Homo sapiens: one gene and its partners. The protein of the gene in region 2 interacts with the protein of the main gene of each other region in a pairwise test. Each region holds a gene or a part of one and is shown on either strand. Other genes may lie near its edges. The genes, in order: PTPN21, BAG3 and PRDM6.

Region 1 (3,827 bases), on a different chromosome or scaffold from region 2:
ACGCTGCAACTACCTAAAGCACTGTGTTAATTAACCGCATTTGCTGAGTGCCTTCTGTAGGTAAAAGCACCATACTATGGAGGGAAACAGAAAATAAGTATTAAAAGATATGGTTTCCACTTCCAGTAGTTTTCAATGCTCTTTGCTGTTTCAGGGGTATAAACTAAATAAGTAAAGCAAGATGGAAAAAAATTAGCAAATGACAACTTTAAATAATAAGCTTTTAACTAGAAAATTGATAAACCAAGAGTAAATATTTAAGGATTATAAATATGCATACTAAACACCCTTTCATGAGATCAGATGGTGGGTTTCAATTTTACATAAAAATTATGGTAACTGGAAACCGGGCGGATTAAGTAGTGTAGATGAACAGACAAGATATTGCATATGTGTAGAGGAAAGATAAATATTTGTATTAGGTGCCATTCAAATATGGTAGTCTTTTCACTACATAGAACTATGCCTTGAAAGCAATAGATACTACACTGTATAACTTAATTATTAACTTAAGCTCTGATTAAGCAAACTCAGTAAAACTTTCAATTGTCCCTCAGACTTGAAATGTATTACTGCATCAGGGATAAAGGAAAAGTCAAAATTATCTCTTATTTTGGTAGATGAAATTGAAAAAGTTGCAGTGTGTGTGTACATGGTGCATCCCCCCAAGATCTATCCATAAGAATGGCTTGCTTTTTGCTTATTTATATAAAACCCACTATGTTAAAACAATGATTTTGTTTAATAATTTACAAATTTATCAATGATTTATACATCTTAATTTTCAGTAATATGCAGTATTTGTTGCCAAATGGTGTAATACAATTATGAATGTCTGAAGATAATAAAACCAAGATGAGTAGAAATTTAAGAGTTCTTTGGGGAGGTCTGTTTCAGGTATAAAATAATATGCAATAATATGAAAGTGATTGGGTCTGGAATTATAATTTACTAAAGTAAACATAATTTATAAATAGCTATTAAAGGAAAACTAGGATATAATTTTTTCTCTACAAAATCTTTCCGTTTTGTGGTAAGTAAACAGATACATACTAGATTCTGCTTCAGTACAAGTTTACAAAAGGCAGTCTGAACTATTTGTGAATTCATTTTAATTTTCCCTCTCTACAACCCTTTCCAAAAGTTCCTCAAATACACTTTACCTCTCAATCTTACAGCGTTTCCCCTTTCCTATTAAGGTCCTTACCACATGTAATTTTGCCAAAGTTGCTTTAAAATAAAATAAGCACTAAAAGGAGAGAGTATGTGACATTTTTAGAGTAATATCTATAGCTATAGCATTAAACCCATGTTTCTCACGGAGAAAACATCTGTGCGTAGATGCTCCAGAATAAAATGCCCTAGAAACGAAACGGACTATATTCAGAGTAAAATTACTGTCGTGTCCCAAACTTAAAAAAATAAATAAACTGTCAGCAACTATTAGGCATACAGCAGTTGTCACTTGGAGCACACGAATGTTCTGAATGTGTTTGTGAGCATACGCTATTAGTATAAGGCTTTCTCAGCAAAAAAGAAAATAGGACGAGCATGCCAAGAGCGGCCAATCTAATCAGGATTTGCAGAAATCACAAGTCGGAATTTGCAGATCCAAGAATTCTTGTTTCCAGAGTAAATACTCTACTCCAAAAACAAACCCAGGCGTTACCAAACAGTCCTTCCCTGCGCCCCTTCTCGCCAAAGTTATCTGGCGAATTTCACGTTTATATATTCTGAGAGGCACAAATATGCCTAACACATTTAAAACCCTGATCCAGAATTAACCCGCAACAATCGGCCAGGGCGTTCGGAATAGAAGTTCAAGACTCCTTTTAGAAATTACTCAAGTATATGAGAGCGAACCTGAAAAACAAGACTTTTCTCTTTGTTACGCTCCCGCTACGGGTCTGGCCGCCGCGCCCCATTCTCCGGGATTCCGGGGCCGCGGGCGCGCTCCGGGGTCCGGGCGAGTGGACACACCCCACCGCTCGGGCCAGCCGCCCGCCCCTCCCGCCGGCCGGGGACCGCGCCCTCACCTGCTCCCGCTCCCGCTCCCGCATCCTCGGGGCCGCGCGCCCCGCTCAGCGACCCGCCTCCCGGGGCCCCGCCGCGCGGCCGCCGCAGCCGCACCCGCACGCCAGCCCGGGCCGCGGCGCGCTCATGGGGCTCGCACGCCTCACTTCCTGTCTCCAAAAACCCGGCTCGCAGACCATTCCCCTGGGCAGAGTCCGGCGGTGGCGACGGCGAGGGGCGAGGCCTGGAGGTGGGACCGGCCGGCGAGGAGCGCCGCACAAAGAAGCCCCGTGGGGGCGGGGGGTGGCAGGAGGACGGACAGACCGTCGGACCGACGCGGGACGCGCGGCCGGAGCAGCGGGGCGGCCGGGCCCAGGCGTCCCTCCCCCTGAGCCGGGCGGGCGGATCCGGGGAGGCGGCGGCGGCCCGTGACCTCAGAGAGTTGGAATGCGGGCAGCCGCGCGGGGGAGGCGCGGACAGCTGCGCCCGGCCGCCGGGGAGGGGGCGCGCCGCTGCTTTTTTTAATCGTATGACCACTTATTTTAAGAGTTTCCAAATAAAGCAAGGCTTTTAATAAAATGAGTGGAGGGGGTATTATTTAGGTTCCAGATAAAGGGTTTTATTCCTGTGTTATTAGGTAGGCTGTAAAATGCTGTTATTGATGGTTATTCGTTTACTCTGGTATATTTCTGAACACTATTGGAATACATTTCTTCTTTTCCTGCTTGCTCCTAAGGTTATGCCCCATATAACTAGACACTTCCAGTACTGGGTGGGAAAGCCCCCCCACCAAAAATGGTTCATATGCCTCAAATAACCTGTCAGTCCCCAAAAGGGAGCTGTCTGCTTATGCAATATAGAGCAGAACTGTTAAGGATGGAGACTTGACAAAGTTGTCAAATCCCAGCTCCAACATTTACTAGCTGGATGACCTTGTGCAAGTTTCTTAACTTCTCTTTACCTGTTTCCTCTCCTATAAAAGAGGGATATTAATATCTTTGCACAGCAGGGGTGGGGGAAATAAATACTAAGCAATATCCAATAACTTGTGTAAAGTATATATGAAGTGTTTCGTTTAAGGTTTATTATACAGTATTCTTGTACTGCATTATTACTGTATTGCAGCACTTAAGCTGAGGAATAAAACTGTGTGACCCTACCACTATTACAATAGTGTAAGATCTTTTCTTGGCATGTGGAACACAGAACCTTTTAATTTATGTAAATTTTAATTTCAGTGATTTTGTTTTAATGCTGTTGTTTCTGGAAAGCTTTTTAAAGTATTGTTTCATGTAAATCTCATTTTCTTAAACAATTAACAAAAACTTTTGAATACTTAACTCTGCATGAGACGTGGTCCCTGCACAACACGGACTTTTGGTTTAGTGGGTGATAAACGCACCTGCACACCACACACGCAGTACAAGGCCAAAGTGGGGAGCATTGTCATAGAGGTATGAGTGCTATCCAAGAGCAAAGCCCAGCAAGGTGCATCTTGGGTCGTTTAGCTAAAGGCAAATAAGATTACCTGTGTTTCTAAGGGAAAAAAAATAGATCAATTCTGTTTGTAATTGATATTTCAACTGAACTCTATGAGGGGGTCAATTTGTGTGTGAGCAAAGAAAAGAGATCTAAAAAGAAGTCACTTTGCTGGCTTCCCAAGGTAGAAAAACTGGAATCATGTGTGACTTCTCCCATTATCATCTCCAGCCTGTCATCAAGACCTGGTATTTCCTCCTTTGAAATGTCTCATGAATTCTTTGTTTCCTTTCTGTTCCCCCTGGAACATTCTAAATCCAAACCCTCATCATTTT
Region 2 (3,167 bases):
ACAAAAATCTATATATCTATATGGCTGTAGTTTATAGTCACAGGAAAACCTGTGCAGCCAGAGGTTAGCACAGAGGCGCTGTGTCATTGCTGAATGTTAGGCTACAGCACAGCTATCCTGAAGCAAAATTGTTCTGGAGTTAACCATTTAGAGCATCTTGGCTAATCCTAAAAAAATACATTGGTCTGGGCAGAAACTACTAGGCTGTCACGGTTTTAAAAAAAGAAGATCGTATCTTTTCTAAAACAGGAGACAAGAAGATCACACCGTGAGCAGACTGTCTGCACAGTGTAAGGAAGAAGGACCAGAGGCAGCGACTCCAAGGCTGCAACACCTGAGAGCTGGAGTCACTCAGGACTCTGCTCTGAGTCAGCCTAGTTCAGCAGTCAGCATGAGTTTTTGCTATTTTTTTCCTTCTTTCCTTCCTTCCTTCCCTCCTTCCCTCCCCCTCCCTTCCCCCCTTCCCCTTCCCCCCTTCCCTGCTTCCTTCCCCCTTCCCCCTTCCCTCCTTCCTTCCTGCCCCCTTCCCCCTTGCCCCCTTCTCCCCTTCCTTCCTTCCTTCCTTCCCCCCTTCCTTCCTTCCTTCCTCCCTCCCTCCCTTCCTTCTTTGAGACAGGATCTCGCTCTGTCACTCAGGCTGGAGTGCAATGACATAATCGTGGCTCACTACAGCCTTGAATTCCTGGGCTCAAGCGATTCTTCCGCCTCAGCCTTCTGAGTAGCTGGGACTACGAGTGCAAGCTCCCACACCTGGCTAATTTTTAAAGATTTTTTGTAGGGTTGGGGTCTTACTATATTGCCCAGGTTAGCTATTTTCATTTTTGAAAATTTTATTGGGTTTCTTTTCATTGCCATTAAGAATACCATCTACAGAGAAATTCAGTGAGAGGTAATAGACAAATAGCCTGGGGTGATCAATGGAAGCCTGACTAATGATTGGGTTACATACATGATTAATACCATGTTTTTATTTTGTAACAGCCATTGATTGACTTTGAAAATCTTTTATACTATTAAACTTTTTTTAAAAAGCCATTTCTCAGTTTTCTTTCTAATCTGTACTAGCTACAAACAATTTCTGTGACTTTCAGTCAGTTATTAAAAATATATTTTTGTGTCCTTTTTTCAGCAGCCCATGACCCATCGAGAAACTGCACCTGTTTCCCAGCCTGAAAACAAACCAGAAAGTAAGCCAGGCCCAGTTGGACCAGAACTCCCTCCTGGACACATCCCAATTCAAGTGATCCGCAAAGAGGTGGATTCTAAACCTGTTTCCCAGAAGCCCCCACCTCCCTCTGAGAAGGTAGAGGTGAAAGTTCCCCCTGCTCCAGTTCCTTGTCCTCCTCCCAGCCCTGGCCCTTCTGCTGTCCCCTCTTCCCCCAAGAGTGTGGCTACAGAAGAGAGGGCAGCCCCCAGCACTGCCCCTGCAGAAGCTACACCTCCAAAACCAGGAGAAGCCGAGGCTCCCCCAAAACATCCAGGAGTGCTGAAAGTGGAAGCCATCCTGGAGAAGGTACAGGGGCTGGAGCAGGCTGTAGACAACTTTGAAGGCAAGAAGACTGACAAAAAGTACCTGATGATCGAAGAGTATTTGACCAAAGAGCTGCTGGCCCTGGATTCAGTGGACCCCGAGGGACGAGCCGATGTGCGTCAGGCCAGGAGAGACGGTGTCAGGAAGGTTCAGACCATCTTGGAAAAACTTGAACAGAAAGCCATTGATGTCCCAGGTCAAGTCCAGGTCTATGAACTCCAGCCCAGCAACCTTGAAGCAGATCAGCCACTGCAGGCAATCATGGAGATGGGTGCCGTGGCAGCAGACAAGGGCAAGAAAAATGCTGGAAATGCAGAAGATCCCCACACAGAAACCCAGCAGCCAGAAGCCACAGCAGCAGCGACTTCAAACCCCAGCAGCATGACAGACACCCCTGGTAACCCAGCAGCACCGTAGCCTCTGCCCTGTAAAAATCAGACTCGGAACCGATGTGTGCTTTAGGGAATTTTAAGTTGCATGCATTTCAGAGACTTTAAGTCAGTTGGTTTTTATTAGCTGCTTGGTATGCAGTAACTTGGGTGGAGGCAAAACACTAATAAAAGGGCTAAAAAGGAAAATGATGCTTTTCTTCTATATTCTTACTCTGTACAAATAAAGAAGTTGCTTGTTGTTTGAGAAGTTTAACCCCGTTGCTTGTTGTTCTGCAGCCCTGTCTACTTGGGCACCCCCACCACCTGTTAGCTGTGGTTGTGCACTGTCTTTTGTAGCTCTGGACTGGAGGGGTAGATGGGGAGTCAATTACCCATCACATAAATATGAAACATTTATCAGAAATGTTGCCATTTTAATGAGATGATTTTCTTCATCTCATAATTAAAATACCTGACTTTAGAGAGAGTAAAATGTGCCAGGAGCCATAGGAATATCTGTATGTTGGATGACTTTAATGCTACATTTTAAAAAAAGAAAATAAAGTAATAATATAACTCAAAATGGTTTTTGTGGTTTCTAAATCTTTGAAAGCAGTGGCATCATGGAGATTGTCTGTCCCTGGTTTCAGTCAGAATAAATGACAGGTGCATTTAACAAGCCTGCTTTGGGTTTTGTGACGTCTCCAATAGCCCGGCTCAAGAGAGAATTGTCTTGGTCACCTTTCAGTCTCAGATTGCAACAGGAACCTGGGAAGACTCAGGGCTGTGAACTCCGGTAATGGGAACATGCCTGCTGCATCCGTTCGGACCGACCCAGCCAACAGCCAAGGTGCCAGTTAGGTAGCATGTCTGCCCACCTGTCCTCAGGCCTCACCAAGAAGCTGAGATTGTCCAAAAGTGCCCAGAGGGCCTGGCGCAATGGCTCACACCTGTTATCCCAGCACTTTGGGAGGCCAAGGCAGGAGGATCCCTTGAGGCCAGGAGTTTGAGACCAGCCTGGGCAACATAGCAAGACCCTGTCTCTACAAAAAACAAATCAGCCAGGTGGTGGCATGCGTCTTCAGTCCCAAGCTACCAGGGATGCTGAGACGTGAAGATAGTTTAAGTCCAAGAGATGAGGCTGCCGTGAGCTGTGATCCCGCCACTGCACTCCAACCTGGGCAACAGAGTTGAGACCCTGTCTCTAAAAATTAAAAAAGGAAGCGCACAGGGAAGCCAGCTCCCACTATTGCCCAAGGCTGGCC
Region 3 (3,600 bases), on a different chromosome or scaffold from region 2:
GGTAGGCAGAAGATGCACTTGGCACCTTACCGAACGGTATTTGAATCCGTCTCCATTACTCATTAATGGCGTGACCTTAGGCAACCCATCTAAACTTTCCGAACCTCAGCGGTCCCCATCTACAATATGGGGGTTAATGATAATGCCTTCTCCGCATGTAGGTGGATTAAATGGACATAAAGCGCCTACCCCCGCCCGGCACGTCCAAAACTCTCATTAACAGGTCAGCTAATCTTATTACGAGAGGAACCCTCCCTCCTCCGCTTCCCAGAGTGTGGGCGGCATGAGGCCACGGAAGCAGCTGCTGCAACTAGCATTTCAAAATCCAGAGACTTTCTAATGGTGGCAGGGGGTGAAAGGGTAGGGGGGAGGCAGGGTTGGGACAGGTAGAGGTAGGTTCTTGGGGACTTCCAGTCTTGGGGACCAAGCGCTTGGAACTAGCTGGGTTTGGGCAGAAACAAGAAGGCAAATGACGGGACCGCCGCCGGAGTCCGGACTTCCATCCCTGGAGTTCACTGTCTCTCCCAGGGAACAGAGGAGTGTCCTGGTTTCTCAGCAATGAACCAGGAGAGTGTGAGAAAGAGCATTTGTTTCTTCTCCCGTGGCCCGACAAGCCACTCTTCGGCAGTTCTGCGAGCAGATTAATTGAAACGGGCCTGGAACTTCATCCTCTCCTCCCGATGGAGTTGCTGGAGGTCTGCGGACACTGCCTGGTTAGCCTCCGGGACCACAGCGCCGTGGGCTTTCCCTCGTGGTGTCTGCCTTAAACTTGGGTGCTATCAATCTATCCAACAATGACGGATGACCTTGTCATAACGACGCCAGTCAAAACATTTTCGGTCTAACTCTCTTCCAACCAACATCGAAGCATCCTGAATGAGACCCGGATGAAGTCTGAACAGCACGTTTCCCAGGTTCAGAAAACTTGAGTGGTGGGAAGAGAAAAAGAAACAAGCAGAAATCAGGAAAGAATGGCTATTAATTGCTCAGATTGGCAAGTGCTAAATAAGTTAGGTTGTTTGGAAAAAGATAAATGCCGTTTCTTCTCTTTACGGTATGGCCAGAACCCCGGCGATGGGAAAGTACCTCCTGAGTCGGTCAATTTCACACACCCTGCCTGTGCCCTCTACCATCTACTACCGAAAATGCCAGGAAGAGCTGGGGGGCAAGTGCCTCCTTCGTGGGTGCGAGACTGCATCGAAGGGCTGCCCTGGCACAAAGTCTGGGGAGAGGACATGGTGGAGGTGGGGCTGCACTCCCACCCTGCCCCTCTAACACCAGGTTTTGGGTAGAGAAACCTATGCGTGACCTCCTGCGGCAGCCGCAGGCAGCTGACCGCAAACAGCCTCGCCCGTGTCCCGGAGCAGTTGTGCCACCAGACGTAACACTGGATACTTGTCTCCGGGCCCCAAGAAGGAGAGGGAAAGAGCCCTCCAGAAGACAACCCGAGAAGGGGTCAGCAGAGCGCTGGGTGGAGTGCAGACTCCATTGCAGCCGCCTCCCAGCCCCACGGCCAAGCTTGAGTCCCTCCAGGACCAGCTGCTCTCGGTCTCAGGACCCTCGGTCCTACGCCTCCCTGCACCGACAAGCCTCCCTCCTGGGCTGCAGACAGAGGGTTTCACTGCAGCGCGCAACCCGTCCCGCTCCGCCCCCAACTTTTCTCCCCGGAGGATTTATGTTAGAGGTTGCGTGGCGGGCGAGTGGACTCTGGCACCCAGAAGCACTTCAGGAAAAACTGAGCCGGGCAAAAGCGCAAACCCGGTCCTGGCGGCGCGGGCTTGCTCCAGCGCGGACACCACAGCGTGTGCGGAGATGCATTCCCGTTGCCGCATTTCCACTGCTTTCAAGATCAGGGCACTGAGCTGGGACCCAGAAAAGACATATCATGGGCAGAAAGAGACAACAGGCTAGCGGCAGACGTCACGCCAAAAAAACAGGGGATGGGAGGGCGGAGGAGTTTGTGCGGGAAAGGCGCTCTGGCGATGTGGGTCGGGCCGAATTAGAACTTCCTTCTTCCCTCTCCCCTCCCCTTCTTCTGGCCTGCCTCCCCTCCCCCCTCCGTTCTCTCTCTCTCTCTCTCTCTCTCTCTCTCTCTCTCTCTCTCTCTCTCTCACACACACACACACACACACACACACACACACACACACACACACACACACACACACACACACACTCACTCTATTTTGTGCTGTCGTAAAACCCACGTGTCCAGCCGGGAAGCTGCCAGAGCGTGGAACCAAGGAGCCAGGACGCGGCAGCGGCCAAGCGCAGCAGCCCACGGCGGTTGAGTCGGGCGCCCAGGTCCGTCCGCACTCTCGCGCCCTCCGCGGGCCTCCCAATTTTCTCGCTTGCAGGTCGGGAGGTTTCCGGGCGGCACAATCTCTAGGACTCTCCTCCCGCGCTGCTCAGGGGCATGTAGCGCACGCAGGGCGCACACTCTCGCGCACCCGCACGCTCACCGAGACACCCGCACGCACCCACCGGCAGCACCGAGTTTTCAGGTAAGGTGAGGCTGGTCTGGGACTTAAGAGTCTAGGGCTTGGTAGATAGGAAGGTTGGTGGTCCTAGGTTGGGGGCGGGCGGCGAGACTGTTCTGCCTCCTGGCGCCTGAGGCCAACGCGGCTCGGGCGCTGCGCCACGCCGGCTCGGGTCGGCTCCGGGCGCTGGCTGAGGGCGGGGGCTGCGTCCTGCAGCCGAGTTCTACGGGGCAGCGCCCTCCTGTCGGGCCCCAGCATTGCTGGATGGGAGCTGGACGCTGCGATCGGGGAGGCAGAGCAGGGTGCACACAGCTCCCTCTGTGCGGCGCCGCAGCTTCGGAGTAAACTTTGCGCCCAAGCGGAGTTGGGAAGAGGGAGCCGCGGAACCGGGCGGCCGCCGGCTGAACCACCGGCTCGGGCACTTTCTCCAGGGTCCCAGTGGCCCTCTTCCCGGCCCCTTTCGCCCAGCTCACGCGCCCCCTCTTCCCTGCCCTCTGCCCCCAGTTCGAGGCGCCGGACATGCTGAAGCCCGGAGACCCCGGCGGTTCGGCCTTCCTCAAAGTGGACCCAGCCTACCTGCAGCACTGGCAGCAACTCTTCCCTCACGGAGGCGCAGGCCCGCTCAAGGGCAGCGGCGCCGCGGGTCTCCTGAGCGCGCCGCAGCCTCTTCAGCCGCCGCCGCCGCCCCCGCCCCCGGAGCGCGCTGAGCCTCCGCCGGACAGCCTGCGCCCGCGGCCCGCCTCTCTCTCCTCCGCCTCGTCCACGCCGGCTTCCTCTTCCACCTCCGCCTCCTCCGCCTCCTCCTGCGCTGCTGCGGCCGCTGCCGCCGCGCTGGCTGGTCTCTCGGCCCTGCCGGTGTCGCAGCTGCCGGTGTTCGCGCCTCTAGCCGCCGCTGCCGTCGCCGCCGAGCCGCTGCCCCCCAAGGAACTGTGCCTCGGCGCCACCTCCGGCCCCGGGCCCGTCAAGTGCGGTGGTGGTGGCGGCGGCGGCGGGGAGGGTCGCGGCGCCCCGCGCTTCCGCTGCAGCGCAGAGGAGCTGGACTATTACCTGTATGGCCAGCAGCGCATGGAGATCATCCCGCTCAACCAGCACACCAGCGACCCCAACAACCGTACGTAGC

Evidence for each region.
Region 1: the proteins of BAG3 (region 2) and PTPN21 interact in binary tests that used the Homo sapiens proteins (3 or more experiments, as listed by UniProt).
Region 3: the proteins of BAG3 (region 2) and PRDM6 interact in binary tests that used the Homo sapiens proteins (3 or more experiments, as listed by UniProt).

Annotation. Positions count from the first base shown.
Region 1 is NC_000014.9:88,552,615-88,556,441, forward strand, and holds the start of PTPN21 (tyrosine-protein phosphatase non-receptor type 21), read right to left. Parts: upstream 2,082-3,827; 5' UTR 2,037-2,081; intron 1-2,036. Other genes in the region: proline-rich protein 2-like, read right to left, coding at 2,082-2,446.
Region 2 is NC_000010.11:119,675,335-119,678,501, forward strand, and holds the end of BAG3 (BAG family molecular chaperone regulator 3), read left to right. Parts: intron 1-1,129; coding exon 1,130-1,948; 3' UTR 1,949-2,485; downstream 2,486-3,167. UniProt on the Homo sapiens protein: Co-chaperone and adapter protein that connects different classes of molecular chaperones including heat shock proteins 70 (HSP70s), e.g. HSPA1A/HSP70 or HSPA8/HSC70, and small heat shock proteins (sHSPs), e.g. HSPB8.
Region 3 is NC_000005.10:123,087,016-123,090,615, forward strand, and holds the start of PRDM6 (putative histone-lysine N-methyltransferase PRDM6), read left to right. Parts: upstream 1-2,225; 5' UTR 2,226-2,504; intron 2,505-2,984; 5' UTR 2,985-2,999; coding exon 3,000-3,591; intron 3,592-3,600. UniProt on the Homo sapiens protein: Putative histone methyltransferase that acts as a transcriptional repressor of smooth muscle gene expression.